Regions from separate parts of the Homo sapiens genome. Here all the other regions are reported to be linked to region 1. The links are microRNA targets in miRTarBase. Many come from high-throughput screens and were not tested one by one. Region 1 holds a microRNA gene; each other region holds the end of a gene's coding sequence.

What was found. The annotated mature microRNA hsa-miR-3128 reads UCUGGCAAGUAAAAAACUCUCAU and lies in region 1 at 5,329-5,351, shown strand. An mRNA with a match to its seed (bases 2 to 7 or 8) in the 3' UTR can be bound and repressed. Matches are read on the target gene's strand: a 7mer-m8 pairs with bases 2 to 8, a 7mer-A1 pairs with bases 2 to 7 and ends in A, and an 8mer does both.
Region 2: miRTarBase lists ZNF234 as a target of hsa-miR-3128. Seed matches in the 3' UTR shown: 7mer-A1 at 1,335-1,341.
Region 3: miRTarBase lists ZDHHC6 as a target of hsa-miR-3128. Seed matches in the 3' UTR shown: 7mer-m8 at 6,183-6,189.

The regions. Positions count from the first base shown.
Region 1 is chr2:177,254,135-177,261,334 of GRCh38, reverse strand. It overlaps MIR3128 (microRNA 3128), which reads left to right and starts at 5,325; the gene lies at 5,325-5,390. All of the region lies in intron 1 of NFE2L2 (NFE2 like bZIP transcription factor 2), which reads left to right. RefSeq lists a silencer at 4,040-4,334.
Region 2 is chr19:44,157,466-44,164,665 of GRCh38, forward strand. It overlaps ZNF234 (zinc finger protein 234), which reads left to right. Exons shown (of 6, transcript NM_006630.3): 6 at 1-2,848. The coding sequence ends at 654. Among named protein-coding and RNA genes, the nearest start is that of ZNF226, 4.0 kb to the right of the region's middle.
Region 3 is chr10:112,424,291-112,431,490 of GRCh38, forward strand. It overlaps ZDHHC6 (zDHHC palmitoyltransferase 6), which reads right to left. Exons shown (of 11, transcript NM_022494.3): 11 at 6,010-6,617. The coding sequence ends at 6,514. ACSL5 (acyl-CoA synthetase long chain family member 5) reads left to right here. Exons shown (of 21, transcript NM_203379.2): 18 at 1,048-1,191; 19 at 1,968-2,069; 20 at 2,498-2,569; 21 at 2,928-4,086. The coding sequence ends at 3,068. Among named protein-coding and RNA genes, the nearest start is that of ZDHHC6, 19 kb to the right of the region's middle.

The DNA of each region.
Region 1 (7,200 bases):
CACTGTATGTGACGTGGGGAGGTGGACCTTGTTAAATACAGGGAGAGTGAATACAATCCATCAATGGTACCCACTGTGGTCCTTTTAAGGAAGACACAGAGGCCTCGGTGGATTCAATTTAGAAAGGCAGGACTGTTTTTTGTTTTTTGTTTTTTTTTTTTTTTGAGATGAAGTCTTGTTCTGTTGCCCAGGCTGGAATGCAGTGGCCTGATCTTGGCTCACTGCAGCCTCTACTTCCCGGGTTCAAGTGATTCTCCTGCTTCAGCCTCCCGAGTAGCTGGGATTATAGGCACCCACTGCCCGGCTAATTTTTGTATTTTTAGTAGAGATGGGGTTTTACCATGTTGGCCAGGCTGGGCTGGTCTCGAACTCCTGACCTCAGGTGATCCACCCGCCTCGGCCTCCCAAAGTGTTGGGATTACAGGTGTGAGCCACTGCGCCAGTCTGTTTCTTAATATAATAATAGTTTTAAAAATTTCTGATGTTTGGCAATGTCCAAGATTCTGCCTCACATTTTTCAGAAACTGCCTTTTTTCTTAATTAAATCTCTTAGCTACTGGAGTCTTTGCCTTTGTTTGCCTTGCTACTTGGTACATTTCTTCTGTTCCATTGGCTCTTTTTGTTTTGAAGTAGTGCTCAAAAATAAGTTTGGTAGTAAGAATATGGTGAAGAGTGTGACAGACAGGGTTAAACCAGGCTGAAGGAAAGAGAGCAGAATGGGGAAAATTTGAGTTGAAAACAGCTAGCAGAAAGCTGATGGCGCAAATTCAACCCTAATCTCATGTTTTGGCACTTCTGAACTATAGCAAGCATAAGGGCTCAACTCTTATCTAGTTGAAGCTTACTTGGGTCTTTGAGAATAGTACATCTCAAAATTAAACACTTTCTTAGTCCTTATTGTTAAGTTGTTTTTGGAATTATTGTCTTATTTGTCTGAATTAAGTGTGCTGCAGGACTTATAGGATCTGATGGATGATTTGCCTAAAAGTTGGTCCAGGTCAACCTCAGGGCATTTAAATGCTTGGTCCAGCCACTTTCTGAAAGTTGACTGAAATATGTTGCACAGCAGGGTAGAGGAGGACAAGTTTACTAGATGTCATTTTTAACCTGCTTGTCTTCATCTCTGACTGTAGAAATGTATATTCATTATAAGTTTGCCACAAATAGAGAATAGAGTTTATTCTTTGATCATCTAATTTCTAGGAGCTATTGAAATTTCACTGCTACCTGCTTTTAAATAAGCGCCAACAAACATTTATTAAAAGGGCTTTAAGGTATAGGCCAAGATTTATTCAATTGCTAATGGTATGTTTTCTGTAAATGAAAGCAAAAATATGTTCAAGTGTATAATATTAAATATTAACATTCAGAAACTTGGAGAAATACAGATGGCTTTTTTTTTTGAGACGCAGTCTTGCTCTGTCGCCCAGGCTGGAGTGCAGTGGCATGATCTCCGCTCACTGCAAGCTCCACCTCCCGGGTTCACGCCATTCTCCTGCCCCAGCCTCCCGAGTAGCTGGTACTACAGGCACCCGCCACCACGCCTGGCTAATTTTTTGTATTTTTAGTAGAGATGGGGTTTCACTGTGTTAGCCAGGATGATCTCGATCTCCTGACCTCATGATCCGCCTGCCTCAGCCTCCCAAAGTGCTGGGATTACAAGCTTAAGCCACCGCGCCTGGCCTAGATGGATTTCTTGTACCAGACTATACCCTAGACATGAAAACAAGACTGTTAAACAAAATCCTGTGCTACCTAAAGTTTGAGCCTTCTGTGTGTCAGTTTCTGCCATAATAAATAACTCTTAACTATGATTATTAAGTATATTAAGAACTTTGAGTAGGGGAGGCACGTTTAATCATTCGTTTTTACGGCATATGTACTATAATACCTGTGTGTTGCAAATCCTGGTATTTAAAAGTCTTTTTGTGTATTTGAGCATGTAAGTTTATTTGGTCCAAACTGCTGGTACTAGTAAAGACAAGTCCAGGGCATAAGTAGGACTTACAGCACCAAGTTCGTCTTTTTTTTTTGAGACAGAGTCTCAGTCGGTCACCCAGGCTGGAGTGCATTGGTACAGTCTGGGCTCACTGCACCCTCCACCTCCCGAGTTCAAGCGATTCTCCTGCCTCAGCCTCCCAAGTAGCTGGGATTACAAGTGTGTGCCGCCACGCCCGGTTAATTTTTGTATTTTTAGTAGAGATGGAGTTTCACTATGTTGGCCAGGCTGATCCCGACCTCAGGTGATGTGCCCACCTTGGTCTCCGAAAGTGCTGGGATTATAGGCGTGAGCCACTGCGCCTGACCTCCAAGTCCATCTTTCAAAGGCTCTGTTGATAATTGACTCTTGAGAGTCATTACAGTCCATCAACAGCCTGTATTCTGAATATTTGTTTTTAATTCTAAGACAATGCTAAATAGCCATTCCAAATAAGGTGAGAACTGAGACTTTAGGGCCTGTATTATCAGCTGTACACTGACAAGCTCTGAACTCTATTGCTTTTTCAAATCAGAGAAGAAAAATGAGTAAGAAAAGAAAAATATGGATCACTTAGGCTTTGATGCCTCCTCTGAGTTTATAGTGTTTACCTTCTGTATTACTTAGGTGATCCTCTCTAATGGCATTTTAAATCTCTGTTGATACTTGTCTTACTTATGTATCTGTTTTTTTTTCCTCTATAGTAGATAGAATTTATAGATATATATGTATTTTAAAGTAAGATACAATTTACGTACCTTACAATTTACCCATTTAATCTAATTCAGGGTTATGCAACCCTATGAATTTAGTAGTTTATTCATAGAGTTATGCAACCATCACTGTAATCAATTTTCAACACCCTCAAAAGAAACCCCATATCCATTAGCAGTCACTTCCCATTTCCCCTCAACTCTCCTGGCCCCTGGTAACTACTCAGTTATTTTCTGTACCTATGGATTTGCCTATTCTGGACATATCATGTAAATGGAATAGCATGTAAATGGAATCATACAGTATTTATCCTTCTGTTGCTGGCTTCTTTCACAGCAATATGTTTTCAAGGTTTAAAAATGTTGCAACGTATATCAATAGCGTCATTCCTTTTTATGGCTGCATACTATTCCATTGTATGGCTATACCACATTTTATTTATCCAGTTGATGATCATTTGAGTTGTTTCCACTTTTTATGTTTCTGTTTGTTTCTTACAGCAGTGGTTCTCAAACTGTTGTATATTAGACTCACCATCAGTATTTAAAAAACTAATGCCCAGGCCATATCCCTCATGAAATCAAAATCTCTGGGGGTGGGGCCCAGGCATCACTATTTTTTAAAGATTCTGAGGGGATTCTAACGAGCAGTCAGGTTTGAGAGCCAGTGCCCTAGGGCAGCAGTCCACAACCTTTTTAGCACCAGGGACTAGTTTTGTGGAAGACAGTTTTTCCATAGAAGGAGGTAGAGGATGGTTTCAGGATGAAACTGTTCCACCTCAGATCATCAGGCATTAGATTGTCCTAAGGAGCTGGCAACCTACATCCCTTGCATACTCAGTTTACAACAGGGTTCCGGCTTCTCTGATAAACTAATGCTGCTGCTAATCTGACAGGAGGTGGAGCTCAGGCGGGAATGCTCGCCTACTGCTCACCTCCTGCTGTGCGGCCTGGTTCCTAATGGGCCACTGACCCCTCCGCAGCCAGCAGGTGGGGACCCCTGCCCTAGGGGACCCACCTCAGTGCTTGGTATCCATTGAAGTATATAGTGATTTAGAAAATCTGGTTAGGATGTCTTATTTAAATCATGAAAGCAAGTGCTTTTGTCTTTGATCATTGCCCTTCACAGCCTTACAGTTAACACCTACATTCAGGAACTGTGTTTCAAAGTGCCTGGCGAGTGTTTGAAACTCACTAAATATATATAACCTGGGCTCATTAAACCCCTCCAGAAGATTTGGGTAACTTTGTTATGAAAGGGCTTCCCTGAAGTGGGTCAGCAGGATTGCTCTGTGTTTTTTCAGGAATGTGGCCTGTGATAACTTGCAATCTAGATTATTTGGAAATAGCACTGAGAGAAGCCAGTGAGGACAGAATGCTCAGAAGCTTGGGATAGGTGTTGAACATCCTGGAGGCCAGGACGGAACACTGTCTTACTCTAGGAAGCTGTGTTCCTGGGCCTCATTATCTTCCTCCGTTAAAAACAAAAGACTTAAATCTCCACAGCAGCTTTCAGCAACTTCATTTTTTGGTTCTCTGTATCTGCCTGATAAAGTCCCACTTTGTAGTGGCTCCCACTTATATTTACCTGAATGGCTTTTGGGTTGACATATTTGGAAACTGGGGCTAACTTCCAAACTGTTGGCAACTTGTGTGTGGGTGTGCGTGCCACAGCACAGCAGTCCCACTTGAGAGACTTGATGGTGTGGTGGTGGTTGGGGGGCTTCTGAAGCTGGCTTAGCCCCAGCCCTATACACCCACCCCACAGATGGTGGGAACAAGCCCAGAAGAGAGTGGGTAACTCTGTCCACTGTGGCCTCCACAGCCAAGGTTGCCAGGCAGAGCTCGCAAGGCCCAATTCCAGTCTTGTCTTTGACCGTTGCCCCTTTGTGTTGGGGGGGTGTATTTAGTCACCTTTCTGGAAGCATGCTTTTCTAATTCTAGTCATCAGTAGTTTGTTGCTTTAAGATTTTGAAAATGGTATCCTGTTATTTTACTTAGGAGTTTCGTATTGAATGGTGTACATAATGTGATTCAAGTACCTCAAAACAGAAGGACTTCAGTTAAGATTTAGGCTCTATGCAACATACACTTCTTGCATTTTCTCATTCAATGTCCTTTCCTTTTTTTTTTTTTTTTTTTTTGCAAGAATGTAGCTGACATTCAGAGTAGATTAGTACCTTCAATGTCTGTGTGAAAGAAATGACCTTAATATGAGGACAATATTGACTGTGTATTTAGGGGGCCCACTGTTAAGGCATATAGAATTTTGCTTTATTTCAGACCTGACAATCTCTTGTCTGCTCTGCTTCCGCATAAAATTATAATACTGCACATGGATGTAAAACCCAACCTATTCCCTGCCTGAGGGACTAGAATAGAGGGAAGAATGACTATAGTTCTTTGTTGCCTTTTGTGAAGGTAACAGGCACAGAGGTATGATGCATGATGGAATTATATACCTCTTCTTGAGGTGTTTGAGGGCTGACTAAGGACCTGTACTTTTTTTTTGGTTTGTTTTGCAGTACTGGGGCCAGGGAGCCTTGCTGTTGTGTCTAGAGAGTGTTGAAGAACCATGAATATTTCGCAAAAAGAAAATAATTTTTTTAACCATTAAAATTCCTGGTAGTGACTTCCTCTGGCAAGTAAAAAACTCTCATTTTCCTTAAAAAATGAGAGTTTTTTACTTGCAATAGGAAAACTTGCCAATTTTTCAAGTTATTTTTATTCTTGATGATTCTCAATGAGACATAATTAAAATACACATAGAAAAAACAACCGTAGGCCAGGTGCAGTGGCTCACACCAGTAATCCCAACACTTTGGGAAGTCAAGGTGGGAGGATCACTAGAGACCAGGAGTTTGAGATGAGCCTGGGCAACATATTGAGACACTGTCTCCTCAAAAAATTAAAAAAATTAGCTGGATCCAGTGGTGCACACCTGCAATTGTAGCTATTTGGGAGGCTAAGGTGGAAGAATAGCTTGAGCCCAGGAGTTTGAAGGTGCAGTGAGCCATAATCATGCCACTGTACTCCAGCCCAGGCAACAGAGTAAGATCATGTCTCAATGAAAAAAAGAAAAATCAACCCTAGTGGACTGGAACAGGGCTGGTTTACTTTGTGTCAGCTGCAGTGCCCCCACTCGCCAACCCACATGTTCTTCTCCTGCTGGTTCCCAAGCAGAGACCAGAACCAAGAATGAGAATCATCCTGTGGGTGCAGGTTGTATCTTATCCTCCAGAGACAGCACTTCACCCTCTGTTAGAAACTTCTTTACCACACTGCCTGTTTGGTGAAATCCTTAGGGCAGTGACTTCCAAACTGTGATCCAGGGGCCACCCTTGGTGGGAGGATCAGGAAGGAGGGGGAATGTATCTTAAGAAAAGTTGGGGGAAGCTCATATCTCTTCTCGTTGATCCTGAGAAGTAAAGTCTTTCCTCCTCAGAGAGATGCGGGTAGACATGACTCGCCTAGATAGAAGCTCATTCATCTCCCTCCCTTCTGCCTCTGCAGGACTCTTGGAAGTCTGGGTCCCCGGGAGTATGCGGCTCTTGCTCTGTGCTACAGGTTTCCAAAGTTCACTTGATAACAGTACAATTGTGCTGTAAATTGTGCAGTAATGGAGACTGAGGAAACAATTAGTCTTTCATCTTCATTCATGTTACCAGCTCACTTCCTATGGTGTGAAAAGAGCCAGACTTTGGAGTTAGGAGACATCTGAATACAGACAGAACTGGCAAGATTATGGGGAAGAAAAGGGAAAAGTAATGAATATTTTCAAAGAGGTTAAGCCATTTGGCCAGGACAACACTGCTTGCAGGTAGCAGAACTGGGATTTTGACTGTCCATAATCCCTATTCTCTGCTTGTTTTACTCCTTCCCTCTCTTCTTTCTTTTTTCATTGTCTAATGACCTACAGACATTCTGTCAGCTGCTAAAGAATGAGGGACTCCTTTATAAAGATTGATAGGACAGTGTCGCTACTTAAGGAGTTCCTTCCATGTGGACCAGTGGGGGCGCTGTTGACGCATGGGGCTGGACTTCTCTTTGGAGCAGAGTCCTGTTCCACGGATCGCTGTGACAAGCAGAAAGTGCCCCACCCCACCTCCATACAATTCCTAATGCTCCTGGGTGATACAACCGCCCCAGTGGAAGCACGGTGGTGCATGGACTTCTAGAGACCATTTGAAGCCAGGACATTGCTGCTTGTTCTTAGGAAATGGCAGAATATTACTTTCTTGTTTTTTGTAGGGAAGCCTGCCATCTCACCAGGTGGCAGCTTGTTTATACCTTTTATCCTAACCTGAAGCAGGTGATGGGACAGAGGTCATCGAATATAATGAAAGTGCCACAAAGGTAGAGTCTGGGTATATTTTATTTATGCAGGTAGAGTGACTTGTCCAGATCCCTTCACACAGAGCAACATTTAATATGGTAATTGTTACTGCTGAAGTTGGCCATTTCTCGGACCTACAGCTGCAAGGAATTGGTAACAAAAGGATAAACTAA
Region 2 (7,200 bases), not on the chromosome of region 1:
TACAAATGTGAAGAGTGCGGAAAGGGATTTAGTCGTAGAGCAGATCTTAAAATTCATTGTAGGATCCACACAGGGGAGAAACCATATAATTGTGAGGAGTGTGGGAAGGTCTTCAGTCAGGCCTCGCATCTTCTAACCCATCAGAGAGTTCACAGTGGGGAAAAACCATTTAAATGTGAAGAGTGTGGGAAGAGCTTCAGTCGGAGTGCACACCTTCAAGCCCATCAAAAAGTCCACACTGGAGAAAAGCCATACAAATGTGGGGAGTGTGGAAAGGGCTTCAAGTGGAGCTTGAACCTTGACATGCATCAGAGGGTGCACACAGGAGAAAAACCCTATACATGTGGGGAGTGTGGGAAGCACTTCAGTCAGGCCTCAAGTCTCCAACTTCATCAGAGTGTCCACACAGGAGAGAAACCATACAAATGTGATGTATGTGGTAAAGTCTTCAGTCGGTCTTCACAATTACAGTATCATAGGCGAGTTCACACTGGGGAAAAACCTTACAAATGTGAGATATGTGGTAAGAGGTTCAGCTGGCGATCAAATCTTGTAAGTCATCACAAAATTCATGCTGCTGGTACATTTTATGAAAATGATGAGAATAGTAAGAACATCAGAGAGTTGTCAGAGGGAGGAAGTTCTACAAGGTGATTAAAAAAAAAAAAACAGAACTCATGTACAACCTGAATGCTTGTAATTAGATTTCATAGGAGGGAAAAATTTTCTTTATCAACCTCTTTGAATTTATTTGATTTGTAACGCTCCACATTTCCACCTAGACTTTTTTTTGTTTTTTATTTTTTGTTTTGAAACAGAATCTCGCTCTGTTGCCCATGCTGGATGCAGTGGTGCTATCTCAGCTCACTGTAACCTCCACTTCCCGGGTTCAAGTGATTCTCCTGCCTCAGTGGATTACAGGTGCACACCACCACGCCTGGCTAATTTTTGTATTTTTAGTAGAGATGGAGTTTCACCATACTGGCCAGGCTGGTCTCAAACTCCTGACCTCATGTGATCCACCCACCTCGGCCTCCCAAAGTGCTGGGATTACAGGCATGAGCCACCGCCCCTGGCCTCCATCTAGACTTTGAAATGATTGCCTTCTAATTACAGTAGCATTCTCTTATTTAAAATATTTGTTTTATTTAAGTCAGTGTTTAAGCAATAGCTCAGCATATCCCAGTGGTCCAGTGACCACACAGCTGAGAACCCTTGTTAAGTGGTACAGTAAAGCATTCTGTCAAAACTTTGACATTTATGACATGTTACCTAGGAAATAGGACTTAGAAAATGAGTTTGACCTGGGCTTTAAAAAAGTATACTGATGAAGGTGCCAGAATTGATGTCCATTAGACTGTAAGCTCCATGGGGGCAGGAACTTTGCTACCGAATCTATACAACCTTAACATTGACTAGTGCTTGTAGGTGTGCTCAATACTTGTTTGTTAACTGAATCAAAAGGAGTAAATGCACAATATTTGAACATTGTATCCAAAGGAAGAAACCTGCGAAATAAAATTATTTGCAGAAATGAACATTTGTTGAAATGCAGAAAACCACTGGATACTGCAGCCTACAATATTAATATGATATTACTCTTTTACAGTTGACACCTGTCCTCTCTGTAGTCTCTTCTCTCAAATTTGGTTCTTATTGAGAGCCTGTCTAGTTTCCCAAAGGTTTTATAAAACATAAGTTGAAGTACCTTTATTTTTAATTTTATTTTTGAGACAGGACCTCGCTCTGTCACCGAGGCTGGAGTGCAGTGGCATAATCATGGCTCACTGCAGCCTCGTCCTCCCAGGCTCCATCCATCTGCCCATCTCTCCCTCTGAGTAGCTGGGACCACGGGCACGTGCCACCACACCCAGCTAATTTTTGTATGTTTGGTAGAGAAAGGGTTTCACCACATTGCCCAGGCTGGTCTTGAACACCTGAGCTCAAGCAATCCAACCTCCTTGGCCTCCCAGTGTTAAATTACAGGCGTAAGCCACCACACCCGGCCAAGTTGAAGTATATTTTGTGATTTTTCTGACAGTGCAGACTGAAAAAAATTTAATTAACCTGACAAGAGTTTACTGAATATCACACAATTGAGTTTTTAATCCATTAATGTTAAGGCAGGGGTTTACTCTAACACTTTTAAAGTGTCAGAAGTAGTTGCCAATGCCAAATTTTTATCAGCCCCCTTGAATTTATTTGATTTCTGACTTTCCACATTTCCATCCAGACTTTGACATGATTGCCGTCTAATAACTGTAGCATTCTCTTATTAAAACTTCTGGCTGGGTGTGGTGGCTCATGCCTGTAACCCCAGCACTTTAGGAGGCCAAGGCAGGTGAATCACCTGAGGTCAGGACTTAGAGACCAGCCTGACCAACATGGTGAAACCCCATCTCTACTAAATACAAAAATTAGCTGGGCATGGTGGCAGGCGCCTGTAATCCCAGCTACTCAGGAGGCTGAGGCAGGAGGATTGCTTGAACCCGGGAGGCGGAAGTTGCAGTGAGCCGAGACTGCGCCATTGCACTCCAGCTTGGGTGACAGAGCAAGACTCCGTCTCAAAAAAAAAAAAAAAAACTTCTGAGGTAGGGGCTGTACCATATTTTTGCCCCACACCCATTAAGCGAATACCAAAAACAACTTGTGGAAATTTGATAATTTTATCAAATTTATTATTTGGGCAGGATTGGCATTTACCATGCTTTTCCCTATTGCTGGCAGTAAAACATGGGTTTAAGGAAGAGTGTTTTTCAGAATTTACACTGTATATCTCTGATTTGGAAGTTATATAATTGGAATTTATGATTATGAGATTAAAATACCAAAAAGACTAAGTAACATATCAGTGATGTCAATGAATTGTTTTAAATGGAAGTGTGTGTTCCTCTATAATAATTTGACTTTTGATATTTTCATTCCTGTATTGACCTGAAGCTATTAAAATGGCGGCAGGTATCTGTAATGACAGGATAAAGAAAAAATATGGGCTTTGGAAGATCATAGACTATTGCCTTTGTAGCATAATGAAATCTATACATTTTTATGAGTGAGTGTGTATGTACATGCATAAGATAATATGTAAAGGATACTTTTTTTTTTTTAGCAATTTTCTCTTGCAATGAGCATTTTGTGGTATTTTTCCATTTTATAATTCCATAAATTACATTTTAATTTCTTATTGAACATCAGTATTACCAAAGCAGTAAATTATGTACATTAGAATTTTAAAAAGTGCTATATGATAATCCCTTCAAAATATGATTGTTCTATATTGTTATATGGCACATAAGATCATAATTAATAGATTCTGGAAGCCAATTTTAAAAACAAAAAAATTCTCTGAATATGTGGATAAATGGATGAGTGTGAACAATTGTATCTTTGCAATTAATGTCTGCTACACTTCTTTTTTTTTTTTGAGATGGAGTCTTTCTCTGTTGCCCAGGCTGGAGTGCAGTGGTGCAATCTTGAATCACTGCAACCTCCGCCTCGCGAATTCAAATGATTATCCTGCCTCAGCCTCCTGAGTAGCTGGGATTACAGGGGCGTGCCACTATGTCCAACTCAGTTTTTTTTTTTTTTTTTTCCCCGAGACGGAATCTCACTCTGTTGCCAGGCTGGAGTGCAGTGGCGCAATCTCAGCTCACTGCAACCTCTGCCTCCCAAGTTCAAGCAATTCTCCTGCCTCAGCCTGCTGAGTAGCTGGGACTACAGGTGTGCACCACCACGCCCAGCTAATTTTTGTATTTTCAGTAGAGACGGGGTTTCACCATGTTGGCCAGGATGGTCTCGATCTCTTGACCTTGTGATCCGCCCTCGGCCTCCCAAAGTGCTGGGATTACAGGTGTGAACCACCGTGCCTGGCCTAAATTTTGTATTTTTAGTACAGACGAGGTTTCACCATGTTGGCCAGGCTGGTCTCGAGCTCCTGACCTCAAGTGATCTGCCCGCCTCGGCCTCTCAAAGTGCTGGGATTACAGGCATGATCCACTGTGCCCGGCCTTGCTTGCTACATTTTTTAAAGCATTAATCTGTAACACAGAGAGAATCCTGGAAATGAAAACAAAGTGGTATACATATGTTAGGGAGGTATGTTTAAAAAGGTTCACTGAGGAAAAAGTGTGCATAAGAGCAGAATATAGTGCAATCCACTTACTGGATGTGGAACCAGTAAGGACAAAGAGTGGGTTTGAATGACATTCCATATTCCTTGGACATGATGGTGATATTTTCAGTGTAGTTGATTAAAGCATGGGTCCCTAACCCCTAGGCCACAGACCCTGTTAGGAACAGGGCCAGACAGCAAGAGGTGAGCAGTGGGCAAGTGAGCAAAGCTGAGTTCTGCCTTCTGTCAGATCAGTGGCATGAACCCTATTGTGAACTACGCATGTGAAGGATCTAGGTTGCAGCCAGGCGCAGTGGCTCATGCCTTTAATCTCAGCACTTTGGGAGGCTGAGGTGGGCGGATCACCTGAGGTCACGAGTTGGAAACCAGCCTGGCCAATATAGTGAAACCCCATCTGTACTAAAAATACAAAAATTAGCCAGGCATGGTGGCAGGTGCCTGTAATCCCAGCTACTTGGGAGACTGAGGCAGGAGAATCACTTGAACGCAGGAGATAGAAGTTGCAGTGAGCCGAGGTTGCGCCATTGCACTCCAGCCTGGGCAACAAGAGCGAAACTCTTTTTTTTTTTTTAAAGAAAGGATCTAAGTTGCTCGCTCCTTGTGAAAATAAAATGATAAATGTAATGTGCTTGAATCATCCCCAAACCATCCCCATCCCCCCACCTCACCTTGTGGAAAAATATTGTCTTCTGCAAAGCTGGTCCCCTGTGCCAAAAAGGTTGTGAACTGCTGGATTAAAGGGCTTTACTCAATAAATTATATCTAACTGGGGAGACTTTTTTCCACTATTGATTTTCTTCAGTATACCTTCACTGGATGCTTGCTACTCATTAAGGTCCATGCTACCTCAATGTGCATGGTATGCTGGGGATTGATAATACCACCTTCACATTCTTGTAATTCACTAGGAGGACTCAAGACACCCTATGTTATCATAGTCACTATGATTTATTGTAGTAAAAGATACCAAGTCAGTTGAGCAAAGGGAAAATGTGCATGGGATGAAGTCCAGAAGAAATCAGGTACAGGCTTCCAATAATCCACTCCCTGTAGAATCATTCATGATGTACTGTTTTTTCAGCATTGAAACATGTGAAATGTCTACCCAGTAAGCTCAATGGAGACTTAGTGCCCTAGGCACTACGTTGTGTTTTGTTTTGGAACTGGTCACATAGGCCAGCTTGGGCCAAAATTCTAGATTCCCAGAAGGAATTCAGCATAAATCACATTATACAAATAGCCGGGGCATGGTGAGCCACTCTCATCAGAGAATTGTGGAAATCCTCCTGAAATTCAAGTTCCCAGATACCAGTCAAGGGCTAACCTTATATCTTGCGCTGCTATAACAGAATACCACAGATTAGGTAATTTATAAACAATATAAATTTATCTGTCATAGTGCTTGAGGCTGGGAAGTCCAAGGTCAAGATGCTGGCAGGTTTAACATCTGGTGAGGGCTGCTGCTGTCTGCTTCCAATATGGCATCCAGTTGCTGCATCCTCTGGAGGAGACAGATGCTATGTCCTCATATGGTGGAAGTGATGAAAAAGCAAGAAGGGATTAAGTTTTAACAAGGGAACACCATCAAACTATAGCATGTTGCAAGCAGGCCTTTTAAGTACAACAGTCTCAGGCCTATGTTAACTCTTTTCTGAACAAAGGGCTTCAGAAATCCAGTACCTATATTCTTTTCTTTCTTTTTCTTTCTTTGTATCACCAGATACCACATTAGGTCATCTTCCTTCAAGGTAATTTGTAACCAAAACCAGTAGACTAAACCAAATAATTTCTTGCCCCTCTGCCCCATAACTGATAAGACTGTAGGTACAGTCTACATCTACCCTCCTCATGACCAGAGTTTTCAGGTTAGTCACAAGACAGCTGTAGAAGCTGGGAGCTATCTGGCTTTGTTTTTGGTTGGTTGTTGTTTGTTCACAGTCAAGAGGAGAGAACTGTTTCATTTGTAATATTGTATAGTTCATGTCTCCCAAAATGCATGGCTACTCTAACTCCCATTCACACACAAGATTAATTCCTTAGCTCTTACCTAGTATGCCCAGCCCTTGTGGGATCATTCAGTTTTTTCATCTGTGGGCCTAACTTGCCTGTTCATCTTTGGCCGTTGGGATTTCCCTGTCTTAGCTTTGAGTTTAGCTACATTTTAACGCTTTAGGGGATATTGTCACATAACATTTTTCTATCTTTGAAAAGATCCACAATATTATGTAATGATTACCACTATCTAATCCTAGAACTCTTTCATCTGCTCCCAAAAGAAATCCCCTACATGAGCTGGGTGTGGTGGTGCATGCCTGTAGTCTCAACTACCCAGGGGGCTGAGGCGGGAGGATCACTTGAGCCCAAGAATTTAAGGCTGCAGTGTGCTATGATCATGCCTGTGAATAGCCACTGTACTCCATTCTGGGAAACATAACAAGACGCTGTCTCTAAAAAAGTAAGAAAAAAAAAACCCTACATATTGACAGTCACTCCCCATTCCCAACTACATCTCCCCAGCCTTGGAGACAACTAATTTACTTTCTGTCTCTATGGACTTGCCTATTCTGCACATTTGATATAAATGGAATCATACCATATATGGTATCTTGTGTCTGGCTTCTTTCATTGGACATAATGTCTTCAGAGTTCATCTATGTTATAACATGAATCAATATTTTGTTCATTCACATTACTAAATAATATTGCATTATATGGCTAGACCACATTTTGTTTATCCACTCATCAGCTGATGGACATTGGGTCTTCTCCACTTTTTGACTATTATGACTAATGCTGCTATGAACTTTTTTAGAACAAGTTTTTGTGTGGATATCTTTCAGTTCTCCTGGGTATTTACTTAGGAGTGAAATTGCTGGCACATAAGCCCCAGATCGGGTGCCAGCAGATTCAGTGTCTGGTGAGGTCCCGCTTTCTAAGTCATACATGGTCCTTCTGGCTGTGTCCTCACATAACTAAAGAGGCAAAGGAGCTCCCTCAGGCCACTTATAAGAGAGCATTAATCCTATTCATGAGGGCATTGCCCTCTTGATCTGATCACGTCCCATAGG
Region 3 (7,200 bases), not on the chromosome of region 1:
AAAAGTTTTGTCTTAACTATGTGCTGGGGAAGTGGGAATGTCACTAGAACTTAAAACTCCTTTCTTGCTCAATCAATATTTAAGATTTAAGTGAGATTTAAGGAATGCTTGACAATGTAACTTTTAAGAACACTGGTCCTAACGATGCATTTTATTGATTTGGGTTTGGTAGTATCTTGCTAATATATTTGTTTCTGTCTAGTAACAGAATTAAATAACACTCTAATAAGCCTAGGATGTAAGCAACAGATATGTCCCCACACCAGGGTTATAGAAGGCTGCACCTTATTAATCACTTTCAGATAATGAACGTTAGGCTGAATTGATGGCTAATTTATCAAGTCGGCCTTGTGATAGTTCCAGTGTTGGTTTAGTTAGTCGCCCTACTTAGGGTGTTAGCATGTGGATTTTATTTGCCATTTGTCCCAATTCTACAATTCAAATCCCTAAAGACCTAAGCTCCTCAGACCAATTAGTTCAGAGAAATGAAGCTGCAAATGACCTTTGGTGGCTGGTCAGAGTCCTCTCAGCCCTGTTGCTGTCCTAACAAGCCCAGTAATTGAGTTGCTTGATTAGCACAGTGGAGCTGTTTGAGCCTGCTCCCGGATCTAACAAGGAGGAAAACATAACAGGGAGTCAAGTGGTGGGAGAACTATTCAAATCAAATCAAAAGTCTAAACAAAAGACAACACCTCTATTTCTGAGAGTTCTGAAAATGAACTAATTGGAAATTAGTGATTGGAAATTGAGAGCTGTGCAATTTCTTCCTTGGATGAGGCATCAATTTGCATAACTCCAGTAGATCCAGGAGACTTTCTCTAAGGCTGCGCATTGACTCTCCACATAGATATACAGTAAAGACAGGTTCTTGCTGCACGATGCTTCCCTCCCCTTTCACCAAAGCCAAGAAAGAGAAATGAAAGACAGCTCAAAAGTCTCTGGAGAAATCAGCTTTAGAGAAGAAAGATGACTGTGACTTCACCACTCTCCCCACTGATATCATCTCTGTGGCTCAAAAATACTGATACTTTTATCTGTCTCATGTAGAATGGAACTCTGAAGATCATCGACCGTAAAAAGAACATTTTCAAGCTGGCCCAAGGAGAATACATTGCACCAGAGAAGATAGAAAATATCTACAACAGGAGTCAACCAGTGTTACAAATTTTTGTACACGGGGAGAGCTTACGGGTAATATATCATTTTAACAATAGCCCATTTCAGTCACAAACCATGCTGGTTCTTGTAGCTACAGGAAATTTGTATAGTTGGGTTCAGAATGAGAAGATCCAAGCTTATAAAACTAAAAAAAAAAAAAAAAATGAAGTTACATTCCAAACCTCAAATAAGGCAATTTCAATTTAAAAAATTTCAAAACTATGATGGACGTTGTACACAAGTCAGTAGAATTGTTTAGAATGGCTATACTAAAAGGTAATGATTCAGTAAAAAATGAGCTCCACATTGCACTTAGTTCCCATTCCTTAAGGAGTTCCTTAAAGCTATGTTTAAGAGCAGTATGTATAAAACAACAAACTGTTGCAATATATATAAAGCAACAAACAAAAGTTTGATCAACAAACTGTTGTTTTATACATACTATGCTTAAACGTAGCTTTAAGGAACTCCTTATCCCAAAACAACGAACTGTTTTATACACACTGTGCTTAAATGTAGCTTTTAGGGGACAAGGGGAGAGTTGACATGGACAAGCCAGAGGCGCTTTAAGCTTAATGTTGAAGGATCAGATTTGAATGGAACATCTTTGTAATGAGATATTGAGTGGGAAAATGGGATTACAGTTCCATGGTGTTGAAAATATATGGTGAGAAAAGAACACTAGTACTGGATTTAAGGTTTTGGGGAAATAACTATTACAATGACATAATTCTGCTTTATTTAACTACTGGGGGACATCCCTACATAACTTCTCTCATGCCCTTGCACCTTTTATTTCCTTTCCATAGTCATCCTTAGTAGGAGTGGTGGTTCCTGACACAGATGTACTTCCCTCATTTGCAGCCAAGCTTGGGGTGAAGGGCTCCTTTGAGGAACTGTGCCAAAACCAAGTAAGTCTTGCCTAGGAAAGCTTTATGCACACCCATGGGCCCATCGTGGAGGAGAGGATGCCTCACCAGTTCCTGCATCTGTCACAAGTGGCTGCAGCCCAAACAGACTGAATAGTTTTATGGGACTCGGGGATAGGATGGAGAGTTTAAAAAATAAAACTCTCTTTTCTATTTAAAATAATATGTTCATTGTGGGAAAAGATTGGGAAAGAAGAGTAAAAATGCTATTCAGAGAAAACTGTTAACACTTAGATGTGCCTTTTCTTCTCAGTTTTTCTTTCAATATTGGGCATATAATGTGCTTGTGCATAGTTTTATATTCCTGCTTTCATACTGCATGGCTTTGACAGGCACTTTGAGTTGGTTCATGCTTAGCCCTTCAGGCTTTTTGAAACAGCCATGCTTTAAGTGATGTTTTGTATTCTTAGGTTGTAAGGGAAGCCATTTTAGAAGACTTGCAGAAAATTGGGAAAGAAAGTGGCCTTAAAACTTTTGAACAGGTGTGTGCTACCACTGATGTTATACTGGCCTCTTGTCAGAAAGTTTTGTTTAAAGTTTCCATCTAATGAGGTTTAAATGTATAATTTCTAAGGAATTGATTTTAGATTTTGTGCCATTAACTACAAAATGACCTTTTGTAGTTACTTGTACAGCGCCCTTTTTTTGCTGTTTATTGTCCATTCTCCCTTCTCCCTACTCATTACTTTCTTAAATTATGTTTGTGGGAATGGGCATGTGTTACTGTTACCTTTACCCTTTCACTGCATCAACCTCACTTTCTTCACAGAGCACTCAGGGGGCTCTGCAGAGAAGTCCAAATCACTAATGAGCATGGATGTGTGTGTGTTCATCTTCCAGGTCAAAGCCATTTTTCTTCATCCAGAGCCATTTTCCATTGAAAATGGGCTCTTGACACCAACATTGAAAGCAAAGCGAGGAGAGCTTTCCAAATACTTTCGGACCCAAATTGACAGCCTGTATGAGCACATCCAGGATTAGGATAAGGTACTTAAGTACCTGCCGGCCCACTGTGCACTGCTTGTGAGAAAATGGATTAAAAACTATTCTTACATTTGTTTTGCCTTTCCTCCTATTTTTTTTTAACCTGTTAAACTCTAAAGCCATAGCTTTTGTTTTATATTGAGACATATAATGTGTAAACTTAGTTCCCAAATAAATCAATCCTGTCTTTCCCATCTTCGATGTTGCTAATATTAAGGCTTCAGGGCTACTTTTATCAACATGCCTGTCTTCAAGATCCCAGTTTATGTTCTGTGTCCTTCCTCATGATTTCCAACCTTAATACTATTAGTAACCACAAGTTCAAGGGTCAAAGGGACCCTCTGTGCCTTCTTCTTTGTTTTGTGATAAACATAACTTGCCAACAGTCTCTATGCTTATTTACATCTTCTACTGTTCAAACTAAGAGATTTTTAAATTCTGAAAAACTGCTTACAATTCATGTTTTCTAGCCACTCCACAAACCACTAAAATTTTAGTTTTAGCCTATCACTCATGTCAATCATATCTATGAGACAAATGTCTCCGATGCTCTTCTGCGTAAATTAAATTGTGTACTGAAGGGAAAAGTTTGATCATACCAAACATTTCCTAAACTCTCTAGTTAGATATCTGACTTGGGAGTATTAAAAATTGGGTCTATGACATATTGTCCAAAAGGAATGCTGTTCTTAAAGCATTATTTACAGTAGGAACTGGGGAGTAAATCTGTTCCCTACAGTTTGCTGCTGAGCTGGAAGCTGTGGGGGAAGGAGTTGACAGGTGGGCCCAGTGAACTTTTCCAGTAAATGAAGCAAGCACTGAATAAAAACCTCCTGAACTGGGAACAAAGATCTACAGGCAAGCAAGATGCCCACACAACAGGCTTATTTTCTGTGAAGGAACCAACTGATCTCCCCCACCCTTGGATTAGAGTTCCTGCTCTACCTTACCCACAGATAACACATGTTGTTTCTACTTGTAAATGTAAAGTCTTTAAAATAAACTATTACAGATACTTACGTTGTGGTGTTTCTTTCCTCATGGACCATGATGAAAATCAGTCTTAAACAAGGACCCCTTAAAAATCAAGTACAGTATCTGTTCTTAAACTTGGGTACACAATAGAATTATCTAGGAAGTTTAAAAAGACACTAATGCCCAGCACTTTGGGAGGCCGAGGCGGACGGATCATGAGGTCAGGAGACCGAGAACATCCTGGCTACTATGGTGAAACCCCATCTCTACTAAAAATACAAAAAACTAGCTGGGCGTGGTGGCGGGCACCTGTAGTCCCAGCTACTCAGAAGATTGAGGCAGGAGAATGGCATGAACCCGAGAGGCGGAGCTTGCAGCGAGCCGAGATCGCACCACTGCATTCCAGCCTGGGTGAAAGTGTGAGACTCTGTCTCAAAAAAAAAAAACAAAAACAAAACAAAAAAACCACTAATGCCTGGTTGCCACTCCAGGGATTCTGGCTTAAATGGCCGGATACAGCCTGGGCACTGAGATTGTTAAGAAGACCCACAGATGATTCTAGTCTGCGAACAGGTTAGTGAAGAAAAGTAAGTTCTGAAGACCAAACCTTCTTATCCCATAGCTGTAAAGAATAAAACAAATACCAGCTGAGCCAAAACTCCAACTGAGCACAAGTCATATCCATTCTTTTACCATCTTTGTTGTACTCTAATTATAATCTTGAATATTAATAGTATTCTTTTCTGGCCTCCAACTGGAGTTAAAGAGAATGTTCTTGGATGGTCTTTCTAGATTTTGAGCCCAGAAAAGCCAAAGAAATATCTATTCTTAAGGATCTGAAACAAAAGGGTAGGCAGGAATTAACTTTTAAAGTCTAGCTCCCATTATCACTTTAACTTTCTCGCCTTCACTTCCTTTCCTATTCTCCCCTCACGCATTACAGCTGAACCTCACTAGTTACCTTCCTGTTTCTCAAACGTGTCAGACACAGGTCCAGCCTGTTTTTGTTCTTGCTGCTGTCTCTAAAATGCAAATATCCCAAAGCACATGACTTGTCCCCTCATCTGCTTCAAATGCCAACTCAAGACTGTCCTACCTTCTTGCTTCACAATAACATGACTCCATCTTACATATATTTTACCTGTCTGTTCACTGCTGAATTCCCAAGTGCTCTTCCCTTATCCTCAACTATTACAGGCCTGGCCCCCAAAGCTTCACATTCCCTGCCTTGGAAAGGTTTCTGAAGTCCAGAGAAATAGGCTTTCTCTTTCCTTCTGTGATTCCACTGTTATGTTTAGACAAGCCCAATTTAAGCATCCAAGCCCACCAGCTTGGATCCTACCACTCACACAAGCTTCAGCTTTTTACTCAAGGGTACATGAGTAGTTTGATATCACTATGTTTAAAGTCTAGAACACTACTGCCACGGGATCCTTGGGGTGTTGCTTCCCCAGCTGGAATCCTCTGTGGCTGGCAGCCCAAAGTCCAGAGGGGGCCTAGGCGGCAGGGCGCTGGTGTCAGCACCACTCAGAGCTCACGTACACCTGGCCAGGTCCTCACAGCACCCGGGCTTGGCCTCACCTTTGCTCCAGAGCGAGTGCCAGGAGCAGGAAGAGGCCAAGCAGTTGTTGGGGGGGGGGTGTGGGGGGGGTATTTCCCCTCGGCCCCCTAGAGCACAAGGATGCCCGGGTCCGCAGCCACGGCTGGACAGCTGTAGCTACGCTTGGCTCCTGCCTATCACGGCTCCCCCTCAACACCCCTCAGGCCACCACTGCCATCCGCTGCCATCACTATGACCGCAATATCCCATTAATAGGGTTAATATCTTGAAGCAAGTGTGTCATGTCTTAAGCCACGTTTTAAGATGCCAGTTGTCCACAGGGCAGCAGAGCAGTTTTTCCATAAGGAACTAAGATGAACCTTTTTAGTCAGCAAAAAGAAAAATGCTTTAAGTAAAAACTGATTATACCCAACATCCATTGATCTTTATTTGATTTGACAAAATCTGCATTTTTAAAAGACAGGTAACAAAATCTGAGGTTATACTGAATCTGACAAATTGAGTTCTATAGTATCTAGAATATCATATAAGAAATATCAACTGAGGGAAAAGAGAAGTACCACATGCAGATGCTCCTGGCAAGGGGGGAACTGTATCTGCAGGTGAGGTCCAGAGTGTGCAGTGCATAAGAAAATCCTACAGAAAATGCCGTTAACTTACTTGGATGAAATGTTTTTCCTTTGAGGGGGAGGAAGAGGTGGTAAAGAGGGGCAGGAATTCAAAGGCATATGCAGAATGGCTTCTCCATTTCAAAATGGTAATAAAAATATTTAAATCATGGCACTAGGGCACCTTTGAGGAAAAGAACATCTTAACCAGAGTAGGCTCATTGCATAATTCTTTAGTAATATGTACAATTTTCAAGTAATTAAGCAGACTTAAAGGATAATTTTGTTTTAACAGCAGCTATCTATTTTTCTTCTCCCCCTCTGGGGCTTGATCTGTTTCAGCATCACAGGGACACTTTTCCACACATTTTCTAGGGAACCAACCCCTTATTCTTGAAACACCTGAGGGAGAAAATGAAATTGAGGTGAAATAGTCTGATGGATGACAGTGACATTACTGAAAGCAGTAAGTCCTATTACTTCAAATTAATAAGCTTGTAGTTAGACTTTTATTCCCCACTTTGCTATCTATTATAAGCACAGTTTGAAGGGGAAAAAAATAAGATTTTTAAATGTTCATAACAAGCTAGGAACAGGTATTTCCCAAATTTGATGATCCCGAATAGGGACTAATGTGGTTAAAGACAGCTCCTAACTAGAGTCAGGGGGAACTCGGTATGGGTGTTTACTTATATGTGTATGATCAGGAAAGGTGTTTTTGGCACACCATCACACTGTCTTTTCCAGGGAACTATCTTCTTGTAGTCTTTGTAAATTTCCTTTTTAGACTTTTTCTAACATATATATTTCTTTCTTTTTTTTTTTTGAGATGGAGTCTTGCTCTGTCACCTAGGCTGTAGTGCAGTGGCACGATCTCAGATTACTGCAACCTCTGCCTCCCGGGTTCAAGCAATTCTCCTGCCTCAGCCTCTGGAGCAGCTGGGATTACAGGCACACACCACCATGCCCGGCTAATTTTTGTATT